7 linked regions of the Homo sapiens genome follow. The protein of the gene in region 6 purifies or fractionates together with the protein of the main gene of each other region. This does not show direct contact. Each region holds a gene or a part of one and is shown on either strand. Other genes may lie near its edges.

What was found.
Region 1: the proteins of ITGB1 (region 6) and NCAM1 purify together in Homo sapiens (affinity purification with western blotting; one study listed by BioGRID). This does not show direct contact.
Region 2: the proteins of ITGB1 (region 6) and CANX purify together in Homo sapiens (affinity purification with mass spectrometry; 3 studies listed by BioGRID and IntAct, with this or other methods). This does not show direct contact.
Region 3: the proteins of ITGB1 (region 6) and ITGA1 purify together in Homo sapiens (affinity purification with western blotting; 2 studies listed by BioGRID). This does not show direct contact.
Region 4: the proteins of ITGB1 (region 6) and ITGA8 purify together in Homo sapiens (affinity purification with western blotting; 2 studies listed by BioGRID and IntAct, with this or other methods). This does not show direct contact.
Region 5: the proteins of ITGB1 (region 6) and FABP3 purify together in Homo sapiens (co-immunoprecipitation; one study listed by IntAct). This does not show direct contact.
Region 7: the proteins of ITGB1 (region 6) and ZDHHC5 purify together in Homo sapiens (co-immunoprecipitation; one large-scale study listed by IntAct). This does not show direct contact.

Annotation. Positions count from the first base shown.
Region 1 is NC_000011.10:113,230,018-113,234,446, reverse strand, and holds part of NCAM1 (neural cell adhesion molecule 1 isoform 2 precursor), read right to left. Parts: intron 3,252-4,429; coding exon of another isoform or gene 3,174-3,251; intron 2,803-3,173; coding exon 2,652-2,802; intron 2,278-2,651; coding exon 2,093-2,277; intron 1,730-2,092; coding exon 1,633-1,729; intron 1,301-1,632; coding exon 1,130-1,300; intron 1-1,129.
Region 2 is NC_000005.10:179,719,128-179,723,556, reverse strand, and holds part of CANX (calnexin isoform d precursor), read right to left. Parts: intron 3,890-4,429; coding exon 3,776-3,889; intron 3,154-3,775; coding exon 2,997-3,153; intron 754-2,996; coding exon 538-753; intron 1-537. UniProt on the Homo sapiens protein: Calcium-binding protein that interacts with newly synthesized monoglucosylated glycoproteins in the endoplasmic reticulum. It may act in assisting protein assembly and/or in the retention within the ER of unassembled protein subunits.
Region 3 is NC_000005.10:52,863,772-52,868,200, reverse strand, and holds part of ITGA1 (integrin alpha-1 precursor), read right to left. Parts: intron 3,439-4,429; coding exon 3,350-3,438; intron 3,231-3,349; coding exon 3,119-3,230; intron 2,512-3,118; coding exon 2,384-2,511; intron 1-2,383. UniProt on the Homo sapiens protein: Integrin alpha-1/beta-1 is a receptor for laminin and collagen. It recognizes the proline-hydroxylated sequence G-F-P-G-E-R in collagen. Involved in anchorage-dependent, negative regulation of EGF-stimulated cell growth.
Region 4 is NC_000010.11:15,516,829-15,521,257, forward strand, and holds part of ITGA8 (integrin alpha-8 isoform 1 preproprotein), read right to left. Parts: intron 2,585-4,429; coding exon 2,462-2,584; intron 417-2,461; coding exon 330-416; 3' UTR 1-329. UniProt on the Homo sapiens protein: Integrin alpha-8/beta-1 functions in the genesis of kidney and probably of other organs by regulating the recruitment of mesenchymal cells into epithelial structures.
Region 5 is NC_000001.11:31,366,963-31,370,553, reverse strand, and holds part of FABP3 (fatty acid-binding protein, heart), read left to right. Parts: intron 1-963; coding exon of another isoform or gene 964-996; coding exon 997-1,169; intron 1,170-3,059; coding exon 3,060-3,161; intron 3,162-3,591. UniProt on the Homo sapiens protein: FABPs are thought to play a role in the intracellular transport of long-chain fatty acids and their acyl-CoA esters.
Region 6 is NC_000010.11:32,919,690-32,924,118, reverse strand, and holds part of ITGB1 (integrin beta-1 isoform 1A precursor), read left to right. Parts: intron 1-378; coding exon 379-534; intron 535-1,383; coding exon 1,384-1,479; intron 1,480-1,772; coding exon 1,773-1,862; intron 1,863-3,733; coding exon 3,734-3,874; intron 3,875-4,034; coding exon 4,035-4,234; intron 4,235-4,429.
Region 7 is NC_000011.10:57,694,685-57,699,113, forward strand, and holds part of ZDHHC5 (palmitoyltransferase ZDHHC5), read left to right. Parts: intron 1-1,235; coding exon 1,236-1,359; intron 1,360-2,076; coding exon 2,077-2,189; intron 2,190-3,874; coding exon 3,875-4,429. UniProt on the Homo sapiens protein: Palmitoyltransferase that catalyzes the addition of palmitate onto various protein substrates such as CTNND2, CD36, GSDMD, NLRP3, NOD1, NOD2, STAT3 and S1PR1 thus plays a role in various biological processes including cell adhesion, inflammation, fatty acid uptake, bacterial sensing or cardiac functions.

The sequences.
Region 1 (4,429 bases), on a different chromosome or scaffold from region 6:
TGAAGAGCTAGTGTTTAATGGGTACAGAGTTTCAGTTTGGGATGATAAAAAGTTCTGGAGATGGATGGTGGTGATGGTTACAACTTAATGCCACTGAATTTTACACTTAAAAATGATGGAACGTAAAATGTATGTTATGTATATTTTATAATAAAAATAACTAGAATTGATCTTTAAAAAAAAAAAAAAGTCGGGTGGACAGATAGTGACATGAGATCAACCTGCCACAAAATTGGTATGAGATTTCAGAGGGAAGTTAGGAAGGCAAAGTGATTGCTTTCTTCTGGCTCCAATCCTGATTACCCAGCAGCTCCTCTCGGCCCCCTGGCTCCCCCGAGAAGCTGAAGAAGTGATGGAAACTTTCTGGCAGAACTAATTCTGAGTGAAACTGCACTGGACTATGTCTCTGAATGGCTGTGATACTGATATCCCAGCCTACTTCCAATTCCACTCGAATTACCACATACGAGACCAGGATTAAAAATTTGTACAGAAACAAAACATACTTCACTGAGTTATTCCAATTAAACCCAAAAAGGGGAGTCCAACATAAGCACACATTATCCTCAGATGATCTGGGCTCAGAATCTTCACACTGCAGTAATCCAAGGGTCAGTCTTTTAATCTTTAGCTTGGAAAGCTAGCACAGGACTGATTTAAGGGCAGACTTGTCCTGCTGGCTGTGCTTATTTGGTTACTATCACAATTACAAGACAGCCAGTCCCTGAGTACAGATATCCAAGCAGGACTGGCCGGGTGTCGGCAGAGAACCTGCAGCACAGGTAACTCAAACGTGCAGAGTAGGATGGATTAGACTCATCTGGCCATGCTCAGAACCTATGGGCTGGACTCATCTGGCTGCGCTCAGAACCTACACAAGGTTCCTGCCTGGAATGTGGTACAGATGCCTTCATCCATACTGGAAGGGTCATGAGAACCAGGCTCTGAAGCACAGAGCATGGGTTGGGGTGGCAATAGGGGCAACAACTCTACAGGCAGATATGACTTTGACCTAATTCTGGAGGTGCAGTTCCTGATTCTGTAGGAACATGCCCAGGATGGCAGGTGGGGACATCTGAGTACTGAGGCACTCATGATCCCAATGGAAACACCAACTCGCCCAACTCACCTTCCTTGGCATCATACCACTTGGAATGCCATACTTCTTCACCAACTGCTCTCCACTCAGCTTTGTATTTGAGGATGGGCACCCCACCTGTGGCCTCTGGTTCATCAAACTGCACCTGGGCTGTGCTGGAGTATGGCTCCACCTGGTCGATGGATGGTGAAGAGGGGGTGTCTGTGGGGAAGACACATATGGAGACTCAGGTGAGCCCAGTTTGGCCCAAGACCATTAACTCTCAGTCACAAGGCACATCTCTGTCATTTCTGCTCACTCTTGGGAATCCTGTCACTGTATCCTGTCCTCCTGGCCCATCTCACCAGATGCTTCTCCCCCAACATGCCCCATGCGCTGATCCAATGGCTCCCAGCTTCCCAACTCTCTGGCTTTGCTGACCCTGGCCCTTTCTTCTTCCCAATATCCTGGAATCACTCAAGTACACAAATTGGGCTGGCAGGGTTAGGTGGGGGGTTGTGGCAGCTGCTCTCAGGTGAGTAAGGGACACTCACCTGCTTGAACAAGGATGAATTCCAAGGACTCCTGCCCAATGCGGTTCACTGCAGTACAGTTGTAGTTCCCAAAATCATTCTCAGAGTCTGGGGTCACCTTTAGAAGGAAGAAGCTATTGGGTTACAAGTGTCCTATGGGATGGTCACAGACTCAGATCTTTATTTACTGAATTAAGTTAGTAAAAAACAGAACTAGTAAAGTATAAATCATTAGCTCCAGCCCAGCCTTAAACAAGAGAAAAGAATAGCAGAGGGGCTCATGGGAGAGGCACATTCAGGGAGGGGACTGGTAGAGTGGGCGAAGGGGAGCTGAAAAGAGGCTCAGTGTCTTCTCTAGCCCATGCCTTCCCTGCTCAGGATGTGCCAGAGAAGCAGGAGAGAGGACTTGAGCTGCATTTTGGAGCCCACCTAGAGTCAAACTGTGCTTTCTCTGCTCTGTCCCACCCCCATCCTGACTCACCTCCAGATAGCTGGCAGAGGGGGTGTTGTAGATCTTGATATTGCTGTAATTGGAGCTTGGCAGCAGCTGGCCATCCCGAAACCATGAGATCGTGGCACTGGGATAGGCAAATACCTCGCAGGTGATGTTCACCTGGTTCCCCTCCCAAGTGTACACAGCCACAGGGCCCTGTAGCTTTGGGGCATCTGCAATAAATAACAATGACTGTCAGGATGACTGCCATGATTATGAAGCCCCCATATCCTGTCTCCTGGCACTGGGAAGGCAGGTGTGCTCCAAAGCAGAGCCAGCGCCTGGTATAGTAGAGGTCAGGGCCATTCTAGAATTCCTGTGCACAGCATGGGAAGAAGACTCAAGGGCACAGCAGGCTTGTAAGAAGCCTGGAGATGGTGTGTAGGGGGTGGCTTGGGAACAGAGCTCTGAAATAGCCCAGGGTCAGCTGCAGGGAACGTAAGCAGAACACACAGGGTGCACATAGGTCCTTGCTGATGTTTTCCTCTCTCATCCTGACCCTGCCTTGCCCCTCCCTCCCCCAGGTCCTTCCCCATTTATTCCTTACATTGCACTTCAAGGTACATGGACTGGGAGTCCTGGCCGATGGTGTTGCTGGCGGTGCAGATGTACTCTCCGGCATCAGTGTACTGGATGCTCTTCAGGGTCAGCGACGACACACGGGCATGGCTACGCACCACCATGTGCCCATCCAGAGTCTGCCGGGGGTGGGGGGGAAGGGAGCATGTCAGAGCCCAAGGCAGGGTGAAGGGCAACAGTGCTATGGCAGGATGGGGGCTGGGAGACTAGGCCATCACTTGTCTGTGACCCGTCTCACTTCCTCTCTCCTCTCTGTGTCAATGGCTTTCTTACTTTAGGTACCATCTAATGGGGGAGGCACTGGGAAGCAGCATGAGAACCTGGGAGTATCCGAAACAGAAAATGAGACTCAGTTATGTCAGGCAGCCTGATCTAAGTACCAAGATTGGTTTGGGGCTAGGTCCCCCAAGATGACTTTGTTTGGGATGTCTAAAATGGAAGCAAAGCCTCCGGCCAGCAGATATTGCAGCAGCAGCAGCAGCAGCCCTACCTCATGAGATCCTGGGAAACCTGCACTGCCAGCCTGTCCTTTCTGTCTGCCCACTTGCCAGTTCCATGGTGCATGTACCTGTGGCAGGACATTCCAAGTGCCCAACATAAGAAATTATTAAAGAAATCCTTATTTCTGCAGATGCCTCTTTCCTGGATGTTTAAAAGTGAAATAATCACATGTAAAAACAAGCCAAACAACTCAAAGATCAGGAGCCACTGCACTGGAAGTGAGAGTAACTGGGTTCTCTCTCCAGGGACAATGGCACAGAGAGTCCTAGGCAGGTCTGGGATCCTTGACACCTTGGCCACCACCATTTTATAGTCCTTGATACAGCAATGGGCTTCCTAAATCTCTGGAATTATAATGATTGGTCAAAAAGAGAATAAGCACATAGTCCTTAGGCAATGGGTACTGGAGTATTTCCAAGGGGATTTCCCCTTGACATTCTAAGTAAAATGGTTGCTGGCCCAGGAAGAGTCTAGGCATGTGGCTTAACTTCAGATCCTCAAGAAAGTTAGTGATCTGGAGAAAGGGTCTTGTTCTGGGTAGGCTGGGCCCTCTTGTCTCCAGTATATGATGTTCTGTAGGGATGGACAGGAGGTTATATTCTGCACCTGGCATCTGCCATCCCATGCGTTGGGTCTTTAAAGAATGACAGAACAATTGGCTTCAGGTTCTTTGGATATGCTGGTTTGGGGCCCTGAAGCCCAGAATTGCAATGTCATACAGCAGCCAGATTAGGAAGCTCACAAGCAAGGCATCACTAGCCTTGTTCAGCAGTCTCAGCAGATTTACCAATGAAAAGTCCCTTGGACCATCACTGACAGATCTAGCCTATTCCGGTCATCTGAGCCCCAATGCATTTCATGTCTGGAAGCTAAAAAACAACTCTAGCAAGAAGACAGAAGAGTCAAGCAAAGTCATGGCTGCCCATTTCTGCAAGTGCCATTCCTCCCTGGGATGAGTTCTCTGATCCTCTGCTTTGACCTATAAATCTGGGATGCTGGTTGGTTGAAAGATGCATCCCAGGAGATGCCACACATTAATGAGAGATGACAACAAACAGGTGTGGAACACTTCACTAGAAAGCCTTGTGACACCCAGTTTGTTGGAGATACTGGATTTTTGAGGGCTGACAGTGCTGATACATTCCAGGGCTATTTTCTTTTCTTTTTCTTTTTTTTTTTAATTATACTTTAAGTTTTAGGGTACATGTGCACAACGTGCAGGTTTGTTACATACGTATACATGTG
Region 2 (4,429 bases), on a different chromosome or scaffold from region 6:
CTTCTTTTTCAGAGAAAATGCTCATAAAATGTAAAAAAGAAATTAGAGAAAGCCTCCATCCTCTTGCTCTCCTTATAATCAAGATGATTTCACTCTCATAGGTGCAAAAGCTGGCTTCTACATCACCTGCAAAAGGCTCCCTTAACCTCAGGATCCAGTGAATTTCTTATCTCAGTATCCCTGGCTCTCCAATTCTTAAATCGGCCACATGACCAGTTGTTTGAAAATTCTGTATGTAGTGTAAACCGAGATTCAACATATAAGAGTGTATTAAAATATAGCCTAAATGACAAATTTCGAAATATATACCCAGACAAATAATAAAAAAAAAACCCTGAACACAAACAGACTCTAAAGCCACTACATTAGACTAATGAAATCATGCCCCAAAACCCAATATTGTGTCTTTTGCAGGCATATGGTTATACTTTTTATGCCAATATTGCCAAATGAAGAAAAAAAACCTTAACACAGACTTTCACAAAATAACAGCTCCTTACAATAACAGACACAAATGCACAAGCAGCAAACACGAACCTCAGCAGCCCCATCAGCAGCTTTCTTCAGGCCCCATCCATCATTGGCCCAATCATCAACTATTCTTCGATCAGCACAAATGATAAAGTTGTCAAAAAAAATGTCAGAGGTCATGGACCACAGCTCCAAACCAATAGCACTAAAAGGAGTCATTCTGAAAGGTTCCAGATCTTCAAAGAAATCTGGATTTGGTATTTTCCTGGGTTTCCAGATTCCCTAGAAAAAAAAATGTTTCAGAAAATCATTTCAGATAATGATCAACAAAAGTTTATGGTGAATCTACCGTAAGAGAAATTTTGCATGAACAATGGAGAGAAATGCCAACTTCATGAAACTTGAAATAAGCAACAGGAAAATAAATAACAAATGCTACAGATTATTTTACGCACTCTGCCTCTAAGACTGCAGGATTCCAACTACTTCCAATTTCTACTGTCACCCATGACCTTGGTCCAAACCAACCCCTCAAGTTCCTGGCCCATTCAACAGCCTCCACTCTTAGCAACTGCTAATGAGAGTGGGAGCATAAGTCAGTACGTACTTCTTCAGTGGTGATTTAAAATAAAACGCACATGATCATCAACCAGCAATTCACTTCTAGATAACTACCTAGAGAAATACTCACAACATACACCCAGACATGTACAAGGATTATTACAGCAGCAGTGACTCTGAAAGCAAAAGTGACAATCCACCTAAATGGCCACCAACAGGAGAACAACTAAAGGGCAACTTCTTTTTCACTGTAACTTCTGCCTCCTGTGTTCAAGTGATCCTTGTGCCTCAGCCTCGTGCCTAAGCAGCTGGGACTACAGGTGTGTGCCACCATACCAGGCCAATTTTTGTGCTTTTAGTAGAGATGGTGTTTCACTATGTTGGCCAGGCTGGTCTCGAATGGCTGACCTCAGGTGATCCACCCACCTCAGCCTCTCAAGTGCTGGGATTATAGGCGTGAGCCACTACGCCCAGCCTAAAGGGCAACTTTTTTAAAGTAAAACTTTTATCTTATTGTTTGACTACACAATTAAAAATACATTCACATAACATCTTTAACGACTATGAGGAAAAAAATAAAAAATTTACAAACAGAAAAACATATATTAGTATATGTATATATACATATACTATGCCAAGATCCTGCTGAAATGTTTTCACAGTATCAGACCAGCTTCTCCTGTTTCTGTATATGTATATACATATATTAGTATTTGTATATAAATAAAGTAGAAATTAATGATTATAAATAATTTTAATTGCCACTCTTTGTAGAGATTATAAATAATTTTACTTGGCTAGAAAGATAAAAGGAACAAAGGTCTGAGGGTGTACATTTTTGCATGAGGCCTAAAGCCTCACAACCTTACTACTTGTATCCTTACCATCTCTTTTGGGCCTCAGTCTTTTTATAGTTGCAAGCATTGAGGCCAAGCAGTGAGCTGACTTGATGTAGTCAAGATGCTGACTCAAACCACAGTCCTCTACCCACCACATCACAGATTGTCCAGACTCAGCTGTGGATCCTATGGCTGAAGCAACCCTAGCACCCAAGAGCAGGGTACCCAAATCAACAGTTTTCCATTTCTCTTTTGTTTTTAAATATAGTTACAAAGCAACTATGAAAGTTATTCTTGGCTGGGCACAGTGGCTCCCGCCTGAAACCCCAGGACTTCGAAAGGCGAAGGCAGGTGGATCACCTGAGGTCAGGAGTTCGAGACCAGCCTGGCCAACATGGCGAAGCCCCGTCTCTACTAAAAATACAAAAAATCAGCCAGGTGAGGTGAGCACACCTGTGAGCACACCTGTGCTCCCAGCTACTCGGGAGGCTGAGTCAGGAGAATTGCTTGAACCCAGGAGGTGGAGGTGGCAGTGTGCCGAGACTGAGCCATTGCACTCCAGCCTGGCCACTAGAGTGAGACTCAGTCTCAAAAAAAGAAAGTTGACCAGATGCAGTGGCTCACGCCTGTAATCCCAGCACTTTAGGAGGTTGAGGTGGGCGGATCGCGAGGTCAGGAGTTCGAGACCAGCCTGGCCAACATGGTGAAACACCATCTCTGCTAAAAATATAAAAATTAGCCAGGCGTGGTGGCAGGCACCTGTAATCCCAGCTACTCGGGAGTCTGAGGCAAGAGAATCGCTTGAAACCGGAAGGCAGAGGTTGCAGTGAGGCGACATCACACCACTGCCCTCCAGCCTGGGTAGAAGAGCGAAACTCCATCTCAAAAATAAATAAATAAATAAATAAATAAATAAAGTTAAAGAAAGTTATTCACTCCAGTTTCTAGGTTTATCTTTGCAATACCTAACCCATTAAGCTCTCTTTCAACTTAGGAAGTCTACTTTCTGCTTTTAATTCAACAGCTTGAATATAATGACCAACCTGGCAGCCTTACTCTAGATAAAACTTCTATCTGAATACAAACAGATTAATGAAAGCAACTCAACCATCAAGAGGCACAAACCTGGTAACTGGGATTGTCAATCATAGGAGGCTTCCATTTGCCTTTATAATTGGGGTTGTCAATCACAGGTCGCTGCCAGACACCACATCCAGGAGCTGACTCACATCTAGGGTTGGCAATCTGAGGAGCCTCCCATTCTCCATCCATGTCTTCATCCCTACGGAGGTACAAACAACAAATTATAAACAGGTTCTGTGATGCAGGACTATGAACAGCTGGCTGGCCCAGGGCTGCCAAGATCCTGCTGAAATGTTTTCACAGTATCCCAGACCAGCTTCTCCTGTATTTCCAGTAATAACAGTTTTTCAGGAAAAATTTATTTTTTAAAAAAGAAGAAAATATAATTAAAATTGTCAAATTCTACCCTGAAATTAGGGAACTTGGCTATATTTAAGTATTAAGATTGACTTCAATAAAAACAGGTAACTTATGCTGGGTGTGGTGGCTCACGCCTGTAATCCCAGCACTTTGGGAGGCCAAGGCAGACAGATCACTTGAGGTCAGGACTTTGAGACCAGCCTGGCCAACACGGTGAAAGTCCGTCTCTACTAAAAATACAAAAAATACAAAAATTTGCCGGGTGTGGTGGCACACACCTGTAATCCCAGCTACTCGCAAGGCTGATGGAGGAGAATCACTTGAACCCAGGAGGTGAAAGTTGCAGTGAGCCGAAACTGCGCCACTGAACTCCAGCCTGGGAGACAGAGTGAGACTCCATCTCAAAAAAAAAAACAAACAAAAAAACCAGGTAATTAAAAAAAGTTAACTGAAGTTCTTACCAATCCTCAGGTTTCTCTGCGTCTGGATCAGGTACGTACTCAGGCTCATCATCTAACCAGCCTTCGGGTTTTGTGGCCTCTTCATCTGGAATCTTAGCAGGGGCATCTTCATCCCTTAAATACAAAAGAAAAAGCCAGTTATGACAACACTGGTCACAGTATAGTACCACTTTGTGGATCAGAACAGAGTATTCTAAAAAAATTTGTTTTTAATCTCAAAATTTAAAATAATTCCTCTTAGAAAATACTTGTAAATCATATATCTGCTAAGGGCCTAGTAAAATAACTCTTTACAACTCAATAATATAAAGACAACCCAATTTAAAAATGGGCAAATGATTTTAATAGACATTTCTCCAAAGAAGACATACGAATGTAAAAATATACAATATGAACATACAATAAGCACACGAAAAGATGCTTAACATCATTAGCCATCAGGGAAATGGCAAATCAAAACGATACCACTTAGTACCAAGTTGGCTCTAATAAAAAAGACTCATAAAAACAAATGCTGGAAAGAACGCAGAGAAACTGAAACCCTCATACACTGCTGGTGGGAAAGTAAAATGGTACTGCTCATTTGGAAAACAGTTTGGCAGTTTCTCAAAAAGTTAGTTACCACATGACCCAGCAATTCCACTTTTAGGTATA
Region 3 (4,429 bases), on a different chromosome or scaffold from region 6:
TAGATGGCTGTATAATAAATTGTAAAAAATATTTCAAGCATGTTATTAGCTTTGGAAGGAAAAAGTTAGGTAAGAAGATCAAATGGGATGGACAAAACAAGAAGAAGGAAAGAAAGCACATCATGGGCAAAAGTGGAGAAAGCGGGAACACAAGCCATTTCATTTAAGGTATTAGTCCAGGCAGTGAGTCATTGCCAAGCCTAGCACGGTTTCAGCCAAGAGGCTGCCTGAGGAAGGATGAGGACAGTCATCCTCATGAAATAGAAAAGGATTGAAATCTACTATTCAGGGGCATTAGATGGTACTGGCTCTGAAGCTTCTCTAGAAGTAGAGCCCTCAGAAAGAAAAAAAACAACAGCAAACTGGGCTACAATTAGAGAGCTGTGTGTGTTCTAATCTGCCATCAGCAAGCAGAAAGACCTTAAACAAATCAGTTAGCCTCTCGTGTCTCCTTCATAAATTGAGGTTGGGGGCCAAATGACCTTTAAGATTCTTTCCAGCTTTAATCTTATGACTCTATGCTATCTTATTGGCCAAGGAGAGAAGGGATAGGGGAAGCGAGGAAAGGAGGAAGGAAGAGTGGTCTCAGAAGGGAAAAAAGGAGGTCCATGAGGAACAGGTGCCAGAAGGAAGAGCAAGTCACATCCTGGAGTTGGTCTGTTAAGATGCAGGCTGCCCTGTACCCTGTAGCAAGACGGGATAAAAAGGTCCCCTACCATCCACTAGTAATTTCACTTGAGAAGGTCAATTGCAAATAAGTCACTTCCAGGGAAAATTACATTTTGTGATACGTAAAAGCCCATTTCATTTTTAATGATTTTACACTGATTTCAACAAGTTCTCTATTGTCCAGCAGGATATTTATAACCTTACCCTTCCACTCACTCTCTACAGAGACCTATTCAGCCTTGGAATGCAGCAATACATTTCACTTTGAAGTTTGAGTTCAACTTTGAAATTTTCAACCACCATCCTTTTAGAAAATTATATATACATAGATATCAAAATATTAAGAGAGACATAAATATACACAGACACATGAAGACACATGTATGTATATATATGTGCACATATTATGTTCCAAATTTAATGTAGGTGTGGCAAACATTAACGCAGTCAGTCTGCTTTTTCAGTGCCTCAGAAACTTCTCCCAAAGTAAAGTCCTCAGAAAAAAAAAAAAAAAAGGAAGATCACTGTATTGATTGCAGTACTATAATCTTAAAGTCTCCTATGCTCTCTACAGCCTCCAAACCACACAACAATCTTTTAGGCTCTGATTCTAGGGCTAATTCCTGACCTGAGGCATTGACTTCATTTTGACATTTTATTTGCCTGTTATCCATTATGTCTGCCCTGTATTTTAATATATATGCCCATATGAGTTTAATAAACATTAAATCAGTCAAATGTATTTAATTAAATGTAATTAAATTAAACTCAGTATCTAAAGTGGAAAAGCTGTGTGAGAAGTTCCACTTCATTTAGTGGCAATAAAGGAGATGTGTTTAGAAATAGATATTAATTGGGGGGATAAACAAACAACTATTTGATTTTATGCAGAGATAGCCAGGGGCATTTTCTTTTAACTTAGGGAAAAGAAATTATTAACAGAAAGGACAACAGGCTTTAAGTAGTATCCTCTGGTCAGTTACTAACTTATTTGTATAATATGAGAGGAGAGATTATAATGTGATGGGTTGTTTGGGATGTCAGATTAGTTTTTACAAACTCTGACACCCGGCTCTGACATTACCAAAAGTGGCTATATCCATTTTAAGTAAAAATTAAACTATGAGTTTATAGAACTCTATAGGAGTTATTTTTCAAGTGCATTAAAAATGGCAGCTTTCATAATATTTTCTGTTTAGAAAATAACACAGCCTAGGTTGGGCACAGTGGCTCACGCCTGTAATACCAATGCTTTGAGAGGCAGAGACAGGTGTATCAACCAGAGGCTAGGAGTTTGAGACCAGCCTGGCCAACATGATGAAACCCCATCTCTATTACAAATTTAAAAAATTAGCCAGGTGTGATGGCGCATGCCTGTAATTCCAGCTTCTGGAGAGGCTGAGAAATATGAATTGCTTGAGCCTGGGAGGTGAAGGTTGCAGTGAGCTGAGATTGCACCACTGCACTCCAGCCTGGGCAACAGAGTGAGACTCTGTCTAAAAAAGAAAAAGAAAAAAGAAAAAAGAAAAAAATAGAAAATAACACAGCTTAAAGTAATGTCCTTTTTATCAGAAATAAGAACAGGAAATGGATATAAAATTCATTCTCAACTTTAGTTTTATTGATTAATTTGCTTTCAGAATATTTGGTTTTATTAAAAATTTGTGCATTTTTATCTTTAGAACAACAGAAATCAAAACACAAAGTCACATACCTGTGTCTGTTTAGGACCAATATCCATTCTTTCAAGAAGGTCATTTAAAAAAGCTGTAACACTGTCCCATGGGTAAATACTGTTGGAACCATCCAGCACTATGACTATGTCCAGTTGAGTGCTGCATTCTGCAATAAAAGGAGTCAATTGTCAAATTTGGAATCTATTTTTTTCAGAGGCATATGAAGTGCTTTCATGGCTGAAAGAAGTTCATTTTAAAAGATGAACTGATGTTCTCCAAAGTAGACACATTGTTTTAGCAATAAAAAATAGTTTTCGAAAAAGTAAAGATGATAAAAATATTCATTGCTTTCAATAACAATTGGTGTGGGATAAAATTCATACCTACTGAATTTTAATTAGTATTGTATGAGAGTTATCTTTGCAAATTTTCTCAATATGAATTTTATATAAGTTTTTATAAAACAGTTTTTGAGCATATCTCAAATGAAGTTACTTCTTTCTTCAAAGAGACTCATTCTTTAAATATAAGCAGCATGACAGCTTTATCTATGATGTTTAAAAATGACTTTGTAAAGTTATTTACACTAATATCAATTCCAAAAATAGCAGTCAGATTTTGTTATATACTGGCAAAGCAAACATTTACCTAAATTGGTAATGCTGGTAGCTAAGAAAATACTTTAAGCTTTTTGGTATGTTCCTTTGTATACATACGTCTCATTCATTGCATAGGCTTTTCAAACATGCAAGAACATTGCATAAAATCTGTACCTTGTACAGGGGCAATGGAATTCACGACTTGAAATGTGGGGCTGACGTCAGAACAGATTCCAGTTGTGTAATGCAAATGTCCACATCTATAGGCATATAAGGGCCCACAAGCCTTTAAAAAATTGTTTTAAAATTAGAAATCATTAGACTGAAAATTATATAACAGATCTTACAAAGACTTAAAATGATAGCATATCTGTTGTCAATAAATATCATTCTCTCCATTCTTACCAGAAATCCTCCATTTGGGTTGGTGACTAAAGTTGATCCAAATGTCATGTTCTCCTTTACTTCTGTGACATTGGGAATTGATGTATTAACTAAAAATAGAACAAAATTTTATGAGGGAGGAAAAGTTTCACAAAGTGAAATTTTAAGCATCTCTCATTAAGACATTCTATTTGTTTTGCTCATATCATAGCACATTCTTCTTTTGGTTCAACTAATTAGTCTTCCAAGTCTTCTTAAGGAATATAATGAACAAGCTAAGGCTGAAGAGTTGGCTCATGTCCCAGAAACTATTTCAGATAGTTTTGCTGAACTGTGAAAGAATGCAGAACTAGCAGGGCAATGAGAATGTGGGATTGCTTTTTGCACGTTCTTGCTAATTAAAGCAAAGTTTTTAATCTCATAATACTGTAGATATAATGTAATCTTATAACTTTGTTATAAATGACCAGTGATGAAACACGATTTTTGGCAAGAAAAGGGGAAATGGGTAGAAGATCAGAAAAGAAAACTCAAACACCAGTTTTTTGACCATGACTTCCAAAATCATGAGGACATCCTTTGGGTGACAAAGGAAACTAGAGGAATATTAGAGCAGTGTCCAGAAAGTTTTGATAAAGGAAACACAGTAAAGAGACTGCATTTGACATTCTGAAGGGAATGTTGGGTCCTGAAGCATGAAGCATGCCAGCCTAACAATATTGGCAAGAAGTTTCACTTTCTCACACTAAAAAAGAAAAAAAGACTGGACAGGAAAAACAAGAACTTCTAAATCTGCTTAGTAGAGTGGAATATTAGAAAGAGGCAAAATTCAGGTTGAGAAAGATTTGTCTCACTGTTTGTTCCAGAGGTTGTTTTCATGTTAAGACTGTATGTGGATTTAAAGTGGGGAATGGAAGCAGAGATTCTGGAATGGTCAGTTAGACTTCCTGATCTGCGCAATGGCCTTTGTCCAAGAGTTTAGTCTGGTTTGCTTTGAAAGCACCTAGAGCTGGGCGATTGTATGCATTGATCTTGTATAATCTGGATTAGAGTTTTATATACAAAGCTTGACCCAGAAAAAGCATTCCTGGGACAATTAGG
Region 4 (4,429 bases), about 17 Mb from region 6:
CTTATGCTGGATTGATCTGGACTGCAACTTACGTTCCCATACGCATTTCAAAGTGTCTGCCAAGTACAGAACGATTAAAGCAAAAGAAAATCTTCCACAATTGCTGATGGCTTCTCCAGCTTTGGTGTTTCCTTTTCCAACAGGGCTCACTGGGCACCCAGGACAATTTCTCCAAAGTGCGGTGTAGATGAGGTGATGTTTCCAGGGTCCCCTCCATTTCCTGGGTCACTGTCAGGTATCAGAAAGCTTTGATTTTTAACCCTCATGTTCTTTCTTTTTCTTTGAACAGGACCAGTGTTTGAGGTCTTTGGTCTTCTTTTTTTTTCTTGTCATGCCTCAGGGGTCTTGTCATTTGTCAGCTGTTCCCTGTCGGTCATGTCCTCCTGAGGAGGTCTGGCTCTGTCAAAGAATCCACACTATAAAGGGAAAGATGGGCTATAAAATCACGTCATTCTGGGAACCTGTGAAACCCCTCATTCAAAGAATTTTCACTTTATGTATTTTTTTTTTTTTAAACTGAGTCTCGCTCTCTATTCCCCAGGCTGGAGTACAGTGGCGTGATCTTGGCTCACTGCAACCTCCGCCTCCCGGTTCAAGCGATTCTCCTGCCTCAGCCTCCGGAGTAGCTGGGATTACAGGCCTGCACCACCACACCCAGCTAATTTTTGTATTTGTAGGAGAGATGGGGTTTTGCCATGTTGGCCAGGCTGGTGTTGAACTCCTGACCACAAGTGATCCACCTGTCTCAGCTTCCCAAAGTGCTGGGATTACAGGCGTGAGCCACCACACCTGGCCCTTTATGTATTTTCGAAGGAGCCTGGAGCTCTGCACGTATAATCAGTCTGTTTCTCCAAATTAGGAGGTTCGAGCAGAGTGTTTGTTACTTGTAGAGAGGAGTTTATTGCATAGGCAAGGTGAGCAGGAGGGCAGAGTGCTCACACCCTTTCTCCTGTCCTGTAGTTGGAGTGGAAGATGTCCCTCTTTCATACAAACCACTTATGGACCTTGGATATTTTCCTGAGATCACAGCAATGTGTCCCAAGGATTTCCCACATGCTTACTGGAGCAGAAGCACTAACTATTGACTAGGAAAAGGAGATTGTCTCCTAAAGTATCCTGTCAGCTGCTTTGGGGTGGATTATAGAAAGAAGTGAAGAGATGGCCACACATCCCTCGGTGCTTGGTGGAACATAGAGCATATATAGAGGGAGAATAGATTTGTCACTTATTTCAATGCCAGAACCAGGTAGGCACAGAATCTTAGTGACTTTCCAAAGGTTAGCCAGAAACTCAGGGAAGAGGTGACTCTAGGATTTTCCTCCTCTTCAGTGTCAAATTAGTACTTTGCCAAGTAAACTACATATTTTCCTAGACACCTGGAACCTCAATTCTTTCTTCTGTTTCTCATGTTGGAAGCCAATTAACTGGGTTTGGCTTAGAGACATTGAGTCATCTCTCTTTCTCAGAGCTACTGGAATATCCTGTCAATTGGCACACATGGTTGTATCTTATACTCATTGGAAATACAGTTACTATGAGTGACAGAACAACACAAAAGTCCATTCTAAAGGCATGTCATAGACCACATGGGTGTAGGATGTCACAAAGAGCTGATAACGATCAGAAACGCCATTCCTTAACTCAAAGCCAAGGTTTTCTCAGTTTATAGGTCTATTAGTCATGCTGCATATTGTTTCAAAATAAAAGCGCACTATGATTTTAGGGAAAACCACATAGTTATCAAAGATGTGACTGGGTTAATTACTCTTATGTAACTGGGACGTCATTTCCATTTGGGAATGGAAGGCTCTGTGAAACTTGGCAATTGTTTAGGTTGGTGGGCCAGAAATTAATTCCTGTTGTGGACTTTTAGAACAAACCTCAGTAAAACACATCAAAGACTAAGTTCAGGCTTCCCAGTGGAGACAAACTAATTGGCAAGATTAAAAACCAAGTCCAGGCATCCTATCACATGCATAATCTATTTGGCCTCATTAGTAGTTGAAATTAAAAATCAGAATTGACCTATATTAATTGCATTTGCATAGTGCTTATAAAAAATGTCAAAGGATTGATGATAGGGCCATGTCAATAAAAAGCTTATGATCTTGGTTAATTAAACAAGAAAAAGAAGTCTTCATTAGAATATTATCACTCTAAGCATATTGGAAAGAAGATCACAGGCCTTAGTTAATACAGCCTAACTCTCTCTACATTTATTTACAAGAAATCTCAAGATGAAAGCAACATTAAGCACCTCTAGTCATCTTAAATGTCAGCTATATAAACATATTAAGTATGCCAAAGCAAACAAGACACGATTTTCCCTTTATATCCTTCAGACTGTTCAAAATTTCCAAAAATGCCTCCATAATTGTCTTTTAAAATCCCTAACTGTATCCCTCTAAATTCCCTCAACAGCCCCTCTAGTTTAAAAGGAAAACAAAGTAAATCAACTTACCTTCCATAAAGCTAAGGTTAAAATGGCGAGAACCAACAATCCAAGAAGTATTGCTAGTATTATTACCCATAATGGGATTGAGAAGGAAACATTCGGAGTTGCCCAAATAACTGATGTCTTAATCTGAAATGGAAAACAAAGCAAATGAGCTCTAATGCGAAAACTATTTGGTGAAATAAAATAGTAATTACCAGTACAACATCGGAAGTTGATCTGAAAGGATCCATATGACAATTGAAATCATCTAGGGGATATTTGAGAGGTAGCACTCGAACATGAACTCTTAAAAGCTAGCATGTTCCTAGATCTGCTTGGTTCTGTAAAAGTCTAATTAGAGATTTGGTGGGTGGGTGGCTTTGCATCACAGAAACCCTAGAATAGAATTGAGTGCATCAGGAATTGACAAGGTGGAAAGGAATGGCCTTCACTTGGGCTGGAACTTTTATGGGAACAATGGCCAAAAGTAGACTCAATAAAAAACTGAATGAATCTGTCTACCATGTGTCTCCTTAGAACTCAGCTAGCCTCATTGAGAGAGGTAAGCTTGTGAACAACCATGAATCCTTGGATGTGCAAGAAGGGTAGAAATCTCTAATCTAATCCCCTCATTTTACAGGTGAGAAAATTAACTCCCAGAGGGACTAAGTGATTCATTCACACAACGAATTAGTGTCAATACTAGGTCTCTTTATCCCTAGATTCTGTGCTGTATCAGTGAAGGATATCCCAGAGCATGAGGCTAGGCATCTTGTATTTTATGGAAGTAACTGTAGTGTGCAAAGTGAATGTTCAATTTTTTTTGATGCGTTGGAGATGACTTTAATCCTAAATCCAAAGATCAGGCCAGAGCGGTGGCTCATGCCTGTAATCCTAGCACTTTGGGAGGCCAAGGTGGGTGGATTGCCTGAGCTCAGGAGGTCGAGACCAGACTTGGCAACATGGTGAAACCCCATCTCCACTAAAGATACAAAAAATTAGCTGGGTGTGGTGGCGCACACCTGTAATCCCAGCTACTCAGGAGGCTGACACACGAAAATTGCTTGAACCTGGGAGGTGGAGGTTGTAGTGAGCCAAGATCATGCCACTGCACTCCAGCCTAGGCAACAGGGTGACACTCTTCTTTCTCCTTCCCGCCAAAAAACAAAAACACAAAAACAAAGATCATATGGGGACTGGAGCCCATTTCATCCCGCACTGTTGCAAGGGGGCTTAGAGGAAAATGAGACCTTCCCAATCTGACTGCATGCTCAGTGTCTATGAACCACTCCCTATGTGGGCAGAAGCACTTCTATTGCTCCTGTGTTGGAGGCCTGTGCCTCCGGAGGCCGAGGCAGCAAAGAAGCTGCAGATTCCCAAGGAGAGACCCAGCCATGCTGCTAAAACCTTTTGTCAAAGAAAAGAGCGCTACATTATTCTTGGATGCAGACATTATTCACTAACGTAGTATTCCGGTTTTATCAGAGTGGCAAGCATTGCCTCCACTCAGCTGGTCTAAGGTCTCCTAGTTTTAATTGTGTTGGTTGAAAGGATCATTTCAATCCTGAAACACACTCAAGAACTCCAGGACACATTCTATAACCCACCCGTCAGGAGAGGCTGAGACTAATGACTAAGGTTGGCGGCTCTGAGATTTGCCCTAGCAGGAAATGTATTGGTGTTTTCACAGCCTGAACCCTAGCACTGAGCCCTAACCATGCTCACTTTGTTGCCTCTGTCTTCTTTTGTGTATTTGTTTCTTTGTTTTTGTGAGACAGTGTCTCACTCTGTTGCCCAGGCTAGAGTGCAATGGCACGATCTTGGCTCACTGCAACTTCCACCTCCCAGGTTCAAGCAATTCTTGTGCCTTAGCCTCCCCAGTAGCTGGGGTTATAGGCATGTGCCACCACACCCAGCTATTTTTTTTTTTGTATTTTTAGTATAGACCTGGTTTCACCATTCTGGCCAGGCTGGTCTAGAACTCCTGACCTC
Region 5 (3,591 bases), on a different chromosome or scaffold from region 6:
TGTACCTAACTCCTAGATCATAGATAACAGGCTTTGAAAATGATGGGTTGCCATGTATAAGGGACAAGAGCACTAACACTTCTTAGTTTCAGGGTAAAAACTTCCAAAGTTGGAAAACTCCTATGCCTAAGGCTTTGGAAGGGAAAGTCTATGTTTCTCTTCTTTCCTCAGCCTTATTCCTAAGGCTTTGAGAGCTTTTCAGGTGCCCTGGAAGGCAGCCTTATGCTCCAGCCTTGGGAGGTAGTATAGCTGAGCACTTAAGCAAGCTCTGGACTCAGACAATTCTGGGCTTCAATCTCAGATTTGTGACCCTGGGCTTTACCTCTGTTTTTGTATCTGTAACGTGGAAACAGTCTTCAGAAGAACAGGAAGAACTAAATGAGATAACATGTACAGTTCTTACTACACAAAAAGCTCATAGTACTTAATAGTAGCTTTTTTTTTTTTTTTGAGGTGGAATCTCACTCTGTTGGCTAGGCTGGAGTGCAGTGGCACAATCTCGACTCACTGCAACCTCCACCTCCTAGGTTCAAGCAATTCTCAGCCTCAGCCTCCTGAGTAGCTGGGATTACAGGCACATACCACCACATCTGGCTAATTTTTTGTATTTTTAGTAGAGACGGGTTTCACCATATTGGCCAGGCTGGTCTTAAACTCCTGGCCTCATGTGATCCGCCTGCCTTGGCCTCCCAAAGTGTGATTACAGGCGTGAGCCACCACACTTGGCCCAATAGTAGCTTATTCTAATCCCAGCTCTGCCACTGACTTGCTATGGCACTGCTGTTCCTTAAGTATCTCTCATCTAATGGGATCAGTTATCTGTGTTCACCAAACAGAACTAAGCGCAAGACTGAATTTTAAAATTCCCATGCAAAGGCTTTGAAAGATACAGTCCTCCACTTCCCCATACCCAGGCCTGAGAGTTATTCATTGAGTTTCTTGTACACTGCTTCTCTACCCCAGCTCATATACTCATAACCTTCCCCCTACCCTCAGGTGTGGGTTTTGCTACCAGGCAGGTGGCCAGCATGACCAAGCCTACCACAATCATCGAAAAGAATGGGGACATTCTCACCCTAAAAACACACAGCACCTTCAAGAACACAGAGATCAGCTTTAAGTTGGGGGTGGAGTTCGATGAGACAACAGCAGATGACAGGAAGGTCAAGGTAAGTCAGGGAAACAGGGGTGGGGAATGGAGAGTGCTGAGACTCTAAAAGAGAATAGGCTGGTAGTCTTGGCTCCCTGGTATTGCACCCTGAGGGGCAGACTATCATGGGGAATTTAAATGAAACAAGATTCATAAAGCCTGTGTAGTGCTGGAATGCCACTGATGCTAAATACATGTCAGTTCTGTCCTCTTGTTTTCTTCCCTCCCTTCTTGGGATTCATCTATTGTCTGCCTCGGAATGGGCAGCACAGAGCCAGGATGTTCTTCTGACCTCAGTATCTACTCCAGCTCCAGCTGGGTGACCCTGTGCAAGGTATGCAGTAGCTCTAGGTTTCTTTCCCCTTCCATAGATGGCAGAGTTATGTGGCCATGGCTGTGACCTGAAGTGCTTTAGGAATGATGCCCAGAAGTCAGGGCCCTCCACTGAGTGAGGTCATTGTGACCTCCAGCAGCAAAAAAGGCAGCCAGGAACTAGAAGCACCTACTCAGATGCCGCTTCAACTTCTAACTCCCAGACATGGCCAATGACCCTGACAAACTATTTCCAGTGTTGCCAGCTGACAGGCAGGAAGAGCTATGTTCCGTGATAGGGCATTCACCTTGTCATGAATGTGTTTGCAGTGTCTTCCCACCAAGCCTTAGCCCCTCCTCCCAGGGTTCTATCACCCTGCAGTGGCTGTCTTGGCAGCTTGCCTCAGCCTTCCAGGCCAGGCATGGGAGCGAGAGAACTTAAGGGCTTTGACCTCTATAGGGTGTCCCTATAGCAGTGTTCTATCATGACACTATCATTCAGCCCCATCAGCTGTTTCCTCTTCCTCATAGCTGTCCCCAGAAAGAACAGGATCACACAGGTGGCTGGCAGCAGAGCTGGGGATGGTGCCCAAAGATGGCAGTCTACCTTGGATAAAGGTGGCTGCCCCACCACCTGCTCATACCTCCTTGGACTTGCCTACTTTCTCAAGGGGCAAGAACCCCAATTAAACACAATAGCCCTGTGGAATGCCTAGGGCAAAAATATCTACTCTGAGTAGGCAAAAAAAACTAGGGGAATGAGAACAAGGAGTAAGGTAAGGATAAAAAAGAGCACACTAAGAGACAGGCCTCATACCCCTTATCACCTAAACAATACACAGAACCTTCTCAGATTCTCCTACTGAACCACCTTGCTCATCAGGATCCCTTAGCCTGGCCTTGTGGCCCCCAAACTCCTAGGAAAGAGAGCTGGAAGAGCTGCCAAATGAGAACCAGCTGATGTATGTATGCTGGCAGCACCCAGAGCTGAGGAACCACTTCAAGGGCATCCAGTCACAGGACTTTGTGGTTGCTGCCCTCTTGTTGGCTAAAGAGGTCACATGATGTGGACCAAGAAAAGGTGTAGGAATACAGGGCAGGAAGTCTAATTATCCAATACTTCCTATCACTAAGGGTCTTTTAGACATTATGTGGACTAACCACAAGGCTGGATAAAGATTCTCAGGACTACTCCTCCTCCTCAGTCAGTCTTTCCCAGGGATAGACTAGTAAATCCCACCTGTATCTGAGGGGACCAGGCTACGGGAATCACCTAGAGTACAGATAAGTGTCTGTCTTGAAGGCTTGTGGTACTTCTCAGAGCCAGGCTCTCTGGCTCCACCATACTGCCTGCCTCTCCCTCCTTGCCTAATATCTGAAGGCCTCTTCCCCAGAAAGGCAGTAGTGGAGCAGAGGCTGGAGGTGAACTAGATGTCTTGCAGGGATAGCTGGGAGGCGGATTGCCTGAGCTCTTGTCCTCACACCATCACTAGTTTGGGTCAAAGGCTGTGTGCTCTGTGGCCCAGTGTCCAGACCCCACCCTGCCCCTCAATTCCTGACTAAGATCACAGCTCAGGCCTCTACCCTCTTTCCACAGTCCATTGTGACACTGGATGGAGGGAAACTTGTTCACCTGCAGAAATGGGACGGGCAAGAGACCACACTTGTGCGGGAGCTAATTGATGGAAAACTCATCCTGGTAAGATGGGCAACTTTGGAGCTATATCTGATTGGTTATTACTACTGCTCTTTCAGCCAAGCCTGTTCTAAAAAGCCAAGTCCTCCCCTGAGAGCTGTAGAAGCTGGGACAAGAGAGTGGTTGTGGGTCAGGGTGGTATCAGGTGGGAATTTTCTGTGTAGTGGCTTTGGACTCACACAGGCCGGAACTCAAATCTTACCTTATAGGCTACATGACTGTGGGCAAATCACCTTTTCCAAGTGCAACTGTAAAACGGGTATTAATAATACCAACCTTGTAGGGCTGCTGGGAAGCCTGTAAGAGACAGTGTATGCACAGCACAAAGCATCACTGATTGAGGAACACAGCAGGTGCTCCATGTCCTTTGTTTGCTCTTCCTGTGTTTCTACCTTGCCTCACCTCAGGAAGAAGTAGAAAACAGGGCCAAATC
Region 6 (4,429 bases):
GACACTTTCATTTATTCAGCAAATGCTCATCAAGGGCTTACTGCTTGCCAAGCAGTGTGCTGGCTTGCTAGCTGCTGGAGATATGATGATAAGCAGAACTAAACCAAACCAAACAAAACAAAAAAACAGTTTTTAAAAAGAACTGAGAGATTGAGAGATACGGATGGTCAGGCAAGATATCGTTGTACATGGGATGGAAGAGCTTCATTCAGTGGGCTTTGTGTGTTTCTCAGCAAGATAATTACCATTGTATAAAGAGAAGACACAGAAAATACAGAATTAGGTTAAAAATACAATGGTGGCCTATATGAAAATTAAAGGATTTTTGTTGAATTACTGTGAATAGTGTTTTAAAATTGAAATCCTTTTCTTTTCAAGTCACTGATTGGCTGGAGGAATGTTACACGGCTGCTGGTGTTTTCCACAGATGCCGGGTTTCACTTTGCTGGAGATGGGAAACTTGGTGGCATTGTTTTACCAAATGATGGACAATGTCACCTGGAAAATAATATGTACACAATGAGCCATTATTATGTAAGTGCCTGGTTCCTTACATAGTGAATGTGTTTATGTTGGATTTTAATGTTTAATACTAAGAGCTTGTGGGTGACTGGCTTGGGGTTTCTCAGGGTTTGAGGTTTTGCTGTTTTGGTAAGTAGGGGTCCTGATTGAAAGTGCAGGAAAGCTAGTGTTGCTGTTTGTGAAGATGCAGCTTTGTATTTGCTTCCTTCTGCTCAGACAAGGGCCTCACTGGGGTGGGAAAGGGATGCCCAGATGCCACTTTCACTCTTTGCCTCAACTCCCCGCCCACAGCATTTGGTAGCACAGTCAGTACTCTTTCTAAATAAATAATTTATCTAGTCTCATACTCTTTGTTTTATACGATTTTTAAAAGCAGTCACTCTGCCTTTATTGAAAATAAATATTGGCAAAGCATTCAAGTTCTAGAAGAAATCCAAATGGTAAATCTTGGTCTTTTTCTTAAGTTGTAGATAATAGAATATTTAATTACTGACTATTCTTTAATTTCATTGTCCTTATATTTAATATACATAGATAAACTTACTATTTAAAACCTTTTGAATATGGAATTTTTTATTCATACATGAAAGTAAAGAGAAGAGGATTAGCAATTCATGTATACACACGACTCACTTCAGCAGTTTATATTTGATACTGTTATTTGAAAGCAGTCTTGTAATCTAGTTATATGTATGCAACTAGATGTAATCTAGCTATATATGGATTATATATGTAATCTAGTTATCTAAAGCAGTCTTGTAATCGAGTTATGTGTAATCTTGCATGTATAACTAGATTGAAAAATTAGAAGAGATTATAAGGGTGTATTTAAATACTAAATTATATTACTTGATTTCTTAGGATTATCCTTCTATTGCTCACCTTGTCCAGAAACTGAGTGAAAATAATATTCAGACAATTTTTGCAGTTACTGAAGAATTTCAGCCTGTTTACAAGGTAAATGTGTGAGATAAAAAGAACAAGATTCTAAACATTTTTGATTGTTAGAGGCAAATCATGTCTGAATTGAAATGTGGGAAAATGCCACCAGATAGGCAAACCGAATTTTACAAAAGTGGTTTATATTAATTTTTAATCACATATTATAAAACTGGTTTCTAGGTTTGACTCCTAAAGTTAGTTAGGAGGAAACATGGGAACTGGCATTTAAAGATAAAAGTTGCTCAGTGGATCCTAATTGGTTGAATGAATAGCAGTTGTATTTTACGTGTTTTATCTTTTAATTGCAGGAGCTGAAAAACTTGATCCCTAAGTCAGCAGTAGGAACATTATCTGCAAATTCTAGCAATGTAATTCAGTTGATCATTGATGCATACAATGTGAGTACATCTTAAATAAGATCAGTTTTGGACAATACCCTGTTGAGAATACTTTGTACAAAGAAAGTAAAACTTCCTTCATACACACTTTAGCGAGCCCAAAGTACTACAGAAAAACTTAAATTCTGTATGTATCTAGAGGAAAAACTTTATACATATTGTCTTACAAAAGCAAGATTCATGGCCTAAACAAAGTGAAAATGTGATAAAGGCATGTGGGGAGTATTTCCAAATAACTGTTTGTTTATCATTAAGGAATAGATCTCCTTGTTAGAAAGCAATTGTAAAACATAACTTACATTTAAACTTACAGGATTTCTCCAATCTTTTTCCTCCCCAAAATATCCTTTATAGAGTCATCTATTCTGATGAATTGTGCTAGAAAAGTTTTTTTTTTTGCCAATTCTTCTCTTCCCATATATTCAGAGGATATGGGTTTCTATTTCAGGAGGTACACACTCATATATACGTATACCATAAAATATATAAAAATGTAAATATACATGTGATTTGCCTATTTCAAAAAGATTTATAGTGTTGTTTTCCCCTCACAGATGGGAGGAAGTTGAATTGAAATTAAAGAGGAATTGGCTTATCCTTTTTGAGCATAATTCAGTGTACTTTAATCACACCGAGTTAGCCTTCATTAATAATCATTTAAATAATCTGAAGGCGGTTGTAATTTGGTAGGTAACCCTTGTGTGTCTCGTGCACCACTTTCAGCCCCCATCCCCCTAACCCTTTGGCAGCTTGAATTTTAGACATTTTTACTTCATGTCATGGGGGTACCATAACGCTTTGGAAAGGCCAGCCTACCATATGAGGCTTCCCTTTTTTATGGGGTACCATAATGGTTTGGAAAGGCCTGACTTGGAGGGGTTTTTATAAAGGTTTTTAATATTTTACTTGTTCCACAGCTTTTCCCATTCTCCCCTGTCTTAGATAATTTTCCTAACTCTTGTTCTTTCAGGGGTGTGAACAAGAGATAGCTTGCCATTGTACCCTTCTCCATTTGTCCTGAATAGTCTCATATGTTAAACAAGCCCTGGCTTGAATCCTTCCTTCTTGGGGGATTTTGTTTTTTTTTTTTTTTGGCTGGGCTACAATGGTTCCTTAAGCAAATTTGTTCCTAGACTGCATAGTTGATTGTTTACCCTAGTCCATAGTTAGCTGGAGAGGTAGGACTACAGAAATGCCATTTTGCCGATGGGGAAGACAGCATTTATTTCGTTTTTTTTTGGGGGGTTTCTGTTTTTGTTTTTGTTTTTGTTTTTTAGATGGAGTCGCACTCTGTTGCTCAGGCTGGAGTGCAGTGGTGTGATCTTGGCTCACTGCAACCCCTGCCTCCCGGGTTCAGGCGATTCTTCTGTCTCAGCCTCCCGAGTAGCTGGGATTACAGGTGCACACTGCCATGCTTGGATAAATTTTTTTTTTTTTTTGTATTTTAGCGGAGATGGGGTTTCACTGTGTTGGCCAGGCTGGTCTCCAACTCCTGAGCTCAGGCAGTCCACCTACCTTGGCCTCCCAAAGTGCTGGGATTACAGGTGTGAGCTACCACACCCGGCCTATTCCACATTTTTAAGACTCCTCCTAATTAGTAACAGCCCTCTGCACTGTGTGATCCTGAGTATTTTAACTCAGTGATTAAAACAGGAATACTCTTTTCAATTGTGTATTTTATTTTAAAGATTTGATCCTTATTAATTAAAACCTGTTTCTCTGGCCTCTGTGTTTTCTAGTTACTCAATTGGATTTGGCTTGTAGATACTTTATTGAAATATATTTTTTTCTGAGCAGTTTATCCATTGGTTTTATGCATTCAAGTAGCATTTTGTTTGACTTTTCCTGTGTATAATTAGGCATTCTTTTAGTCCCTTTCCTCAGAAGTCATTTTGGAAAACGGCAAATTGTCAGAAGGCGTAACAATAAGTTACAAATCTTACTGCAAGAACGGGGTGAATGGAACAGGGGAAAATGGAAGAAAATGTTCCAATATTTCCATTGGAGATGAGGTATGTTGTATAAAGCATTTTCTGTAGAAAACATTGGTTATTTATAAGCAAATTTAGTTTATAGTTTGAGAAACATTAAAATAAGTGAGCAACTTTTTGAAATATTTTTTAGTAGATTTAAATTGTTTAGTTGGTTGTTAATCTTTTTTTTCCCTTCAAGGTTCAATTTGAAATTAGCATAACTTCAAATAAGTGTCCAAAAAAGGATTCTGACAGCTTTAAAATTAGGCCTCTGGGCTTTACGGAGGAAGTAGAGGTTATTCTTCAGTACATCTGTGAATGTGAATGCCAAAGCGAAGGCATCCCTGAAAGTCCCAAGTGTCATGAAGGAAATGGGACATTTGAGTGTGGCGCGTGCAGGTAAGCTGGGTGTTGTCAGACAGTGACAGAGCTACATTGGTTTAGAGAGTATAGGCAGGTCATATTTTGGGACATCCAGAGAATATCTCTCTATTTGGAGCAAATTATTTTTTCCAACCACGGTTGCTCACCACAAGATCAGTTTGATGATCTTGTGTGTGATATTTATAGAAAGTTCCTTCCTGCCTTTTTTTC
Region 7 (4,429 bases), on a different chromosome or scaffold from region 6:
AACAATAGAAAATGAATTCATTCATTTCCATGTCTTCATAGGACTTAACAGCTTACAGCTAGATGGTAGGAGCTAAACAAGTAGTTGTTGGTTTAAATGGGCAAATAAGTGACAGAATTAAAACCTTTTTTAAACCCTTTCTTCTGCCAGGTACAGTAACTCATGCCTATAATCCCAGCACTTAGCGAGGCTGAGGTGGGAAGATCGCTTGAGTTCAGGAGCTCAAGACCAGCCTGGACAACATAGCGAGACTCCATCTCTAAAACAGACTAAAATAAAAAATAGAAAAATTTTCTGGCTGGGCGTAGTGGCTTATGCCTGTAATCCCAACACTTTGGGAGGCTGAGGTGGGTGGATCACCTGAGGTTGGGAGCTCGAGACCAGCCTGACCAACATGGAGACACCCTGTCTCTATTAAAAATACAAAATTAGCTGGGCATGGTGGCGCATGCCTGTAGTCCTAGCTACTTGGGAGGCTGAGGTAGGAGAATTGCTTGAACCCGGGAGGCGGAGGTTGCAGTGAGCCGAGATCATGCCATTGCACTCCGCCTGGGCAACAAGACCGAAACTCCATCTCAAAAAAAAATTAGCCAGGTGTGGTGGCACATGCCTGTAATCCTAGCTGCTTGGGAGGCTGAGGCATGAGAATCGCTTGAACCTGCGAGCCAGAGGTTGCAATGAGCCGTGATCACGCCACTGCACTCCAGCCTGGGTGACTGAGCAAGACTCCATTTCAAAAAAAAAAACCCAACTTTTCTTCATCTAATGCTATACCCAAACTGATTCTTGTGCCTTGTCTTCCAGTATAGTTGAGAAATATATGATAGGCAGTGGCTCATGTCTATAATCCCAACATTTAGGGTGGCCAAGGTGGGGTGATATTGCTTGAGGCCAGGGGTTCAAGACCAGCTTGGGCAACATGGCGAGACCCCCATCTCTACAAAATAAAGTAAAATAAATTAACTGGGTGTGGTGGCATGTGCCTGTAATCCCAGCTACTTGGGAGGCTGAGGTGGGAAGAGCACTTGAGCCTAGGAGTTGCAGGCTGCAGTGAACATGATCATGCGTACCACTGTACTCCAGCCTGGTCAACAGAGTGAGACCTTGTCTCAAAAAAAAAAAAAAAATACATGAGAATTGACTCCCAAATACCTCCCTCTTATATCAATTTAATACTTTGAGTTGCCATAATGCTCAATTTCTAAATCTGATTTTCCCTCCCTTCATCAATCCAGTCTAAGGGAAGCCTGGAGATAACAGAGAGCCAGTCTGCAGATGCTGAACCTCCACCTCCTCCTAAGCCAGACCTGAGCCGTTACACAGGGTTGCGAACACACCTCGGCTTGGCTACTAATGAGGGTAAGGGCTGCCTTGATTTGCAAGATACTAGAACTAGGGGCAGGATTGAGAAGGTTGCTTATGAGCTGTGGAAGACAGGCAAGGGCTGGGAGATATTACTCGTGTTGTGACTTTAAACACCCAACAGTTGGTACTTGTGCTACTTTGCAACTGAAAGAGAAGAGAGGCCATTTAGCTATTGGCAGTGAATGGGACTTTTGCCGGGAAAATGGTCAGCCTCTAGGCAGACCAGAGAACATCACAGAACCTTTTTGGTGCATTTACCCACCCTGAATTCTGGGCTGGTGTGAGTCTTTAAAAGTCTTGATTTCAGCGAAGGGTATATCTATTCCTACCTTGTCCTCTCCCTGTACTTAAGGAACCCTAGGCAGATAAAGTGAACAACTCATAGACTAGACGCAGTGGCTCACACCTGTGATCCCAGCACTTTGGGAGGCCAACGCAGGAGGATTGCTTGAGCCCAGGAGTTCAAGACCACCCTGGGCAACATAGCAAGACTCTGTCTCTACAAAAAATTTAAAAAAGTTAGCTGGGCATGGTGGCATATGCCTGCAGTCCCAGCTACTCAGGAGGCTGAGGTGGGAGCCCAGGAGTTCAAGGCTCCAGTGAGCTATAATCGTGCCACTGCACTCTAGCTTGGACAGTAGAGTGAGACCCTGTCTCTTAAACCAAAAAACCGCTTGTAAAATAGTGCCCCCTTGGCCTTTTTTCTTGCAGATAGTAGCTTATTGGCCAAGGACAGCCCCCCGACACCTACCATGTACAAGTATCGGCCGGGTTACAGTAGCAGCAGTACGTCAGCTGCCATGCCGCATTCCTCCAGCGCCAAGGTACTGAGTACTCTAAGAGGTGGGGTAATAACATGCCAACTGGCCAGGCACAGTGGCTCATTCCTGTAATCCCAGCACTTTGGGAGCCCAAGGTGGGTGGATCACAAGGTCAAGAGATTGAGACCGTCCTGGCCAACATGGTGAAACCCCGTCTCTACTAAAAATACAAAAATTAGGCCAGGCGTGGTGGCTCACGCCTGTAATCCCAGCACTTTGGGAGGCCGAGACTGGTGGATCACAAGGTCAGGAGTTCGAGACCAGCCTGGCTAATGTGGTGAAACCCCATCTCTACTAAAAATACAAAAATTGCCGGGCACAGTGGCTCACGCCTGTAATCCCAGCACTTTGGGAGGCTGAGGCAGGTGAATCACGAGGTCAGGAGATTGAGACCATCCTGGCTAACATGGTGAAACCCCGTCTCTACTAAAAATACAAAAAAATTAGCCAGGCATGGTGGCAGGTGCCTGTAGTCCCAGCTACTCGGGAGGCTGAGCCAGGAGAATGGCGTGAACCCAGGAAGCGGAGCTTGCAGTTAGCCGAGATCATGCCACTGCACTCCAGCCTGGGCAGCAGAGCGAGACCGCATCTCAAAAAAAAAATAAATAAATAAATACAAAAATTATCTGGGCGTGGTGGGGGGGCACCTGTAATCCCAGCTATTCGGGAGGCTGAGGCAGGAGAATCACTTGAATCTGGGAGGTGGAGGTGGCAGTGAGTCGAGATTGCGCCACTGCACTCCAGTCTGGGTGACAGAGTGAGAGTCCATCTCAAAAAAAAAAAAAAAAAATTAGCTGGTAGTGGTATGCATCTGTAGTCCCAGCTACTTGGCAGGCTGAGGCAAGGAGAATCGCTTGAACCTGGGAGGAGAATTGCTTGAACCTGGGAGGTGGAGGCTGCAGTGAGCTGAGCTCCCACTGCTGTATTCCAGTCTGGTGACAGAGTGAGACTACACCTCAAAAAAAAAAAAAAAAAAAAAAAGGCCAAGCACAGTGGCTCAAGCCTGTAATCCCAGCACTTGGGGAGGCTGAGGCAGACGGACCACCCGAGGTCAGGAGTTTGAGACCAGCCTGGCCAACTTGGTGAAACCCTGTCTCTACTAAAAATACAAAAATTAGCTGGGCGTGGTGGCGGGGCGCCTGTAATCCCAGCTACTCGGGAAGCTGAGGCAGGAGAATCGTTTGAACCTGGGAGGCTGAGGTTGCAGTGAGCCAAGATTGCACCATCACGCTCCAGCCTGGGCTTAAAACACACACACACACACACACACACACACACAAACAAATGCCAACTGTTACGGGAAAAAAAGAAGATTAGGGGAAGGAAAAGGCAGAAGAAAGGACATTTCACTAATTGTTGGCATTCGTGGAACTCAATCTCCTTGATACTGTGTCCTTCATCAGACTGGGCAATATAGCATAATAGATTAGTGCTTGATCCGAGTTTATAACCCAGTTCTGCCCACGGGCGAGATACTCAGCCTTTCTACGTCTTGCTTTCTGTATCTGAAAAGGAGATGATATTTGCCTGAATTCAGTTTTTCTTGAGGGATTAACCCAGATAATGCATGTAAGAGTTCTAAGCTTATTATTGGCACATAATTCTCTTTTTGACCAACTCCTTGAGCTCTGGGGTCTAGCTTCTGTCACAAAAGGAGCACTAAGAGCCTGCTTTACTTTCTTCCTCAGTTGAGTCGTGGGGACAGCTTGAAGGAGCCAACCTCAATTGCAGAGAGCAGCCGTCACCCCAGCTACCGCTCAGAGCCCAGCTTGGAACCAGAGAGCTTCCGTTCTCCTACCTTTGGCAAAAGTTTTCACTTCGATCCACTATCCAGTGGCTCACGCTCCTCCAGCCTCAAGTCAGCCCAGGGCACAGGCTTTGAGCTGGGCCAGTTGCAATCCATTCGTTCAGAGGGCACCACCTCCACCTCCTATAAGAGCCTGGCCAACCAGACACGCAATGGAAGCCTATCTTATGACAGCTTGCTCACACCTTCAGACAGCCCTGATTTTGAGTCAGTGCAGGCAGGGCCTGAGCCAGACCCACCTTTAGGCTATACCTCTCCCTTCCTGTCAGCCAGGCTGGCCCAGCAACGGGAAGCTGAGAGGCACCCACGTTTGGTGCCAACTGGCCCAACACACCGAGAGCCCTCACCAGTCCGTTACGACAATCTGTCGCGCCACATTGTGGCCTCTCTCCAGGAACGAGAGAAGTTGCTGCGCCAGTCACCCCCACTCCCGGGC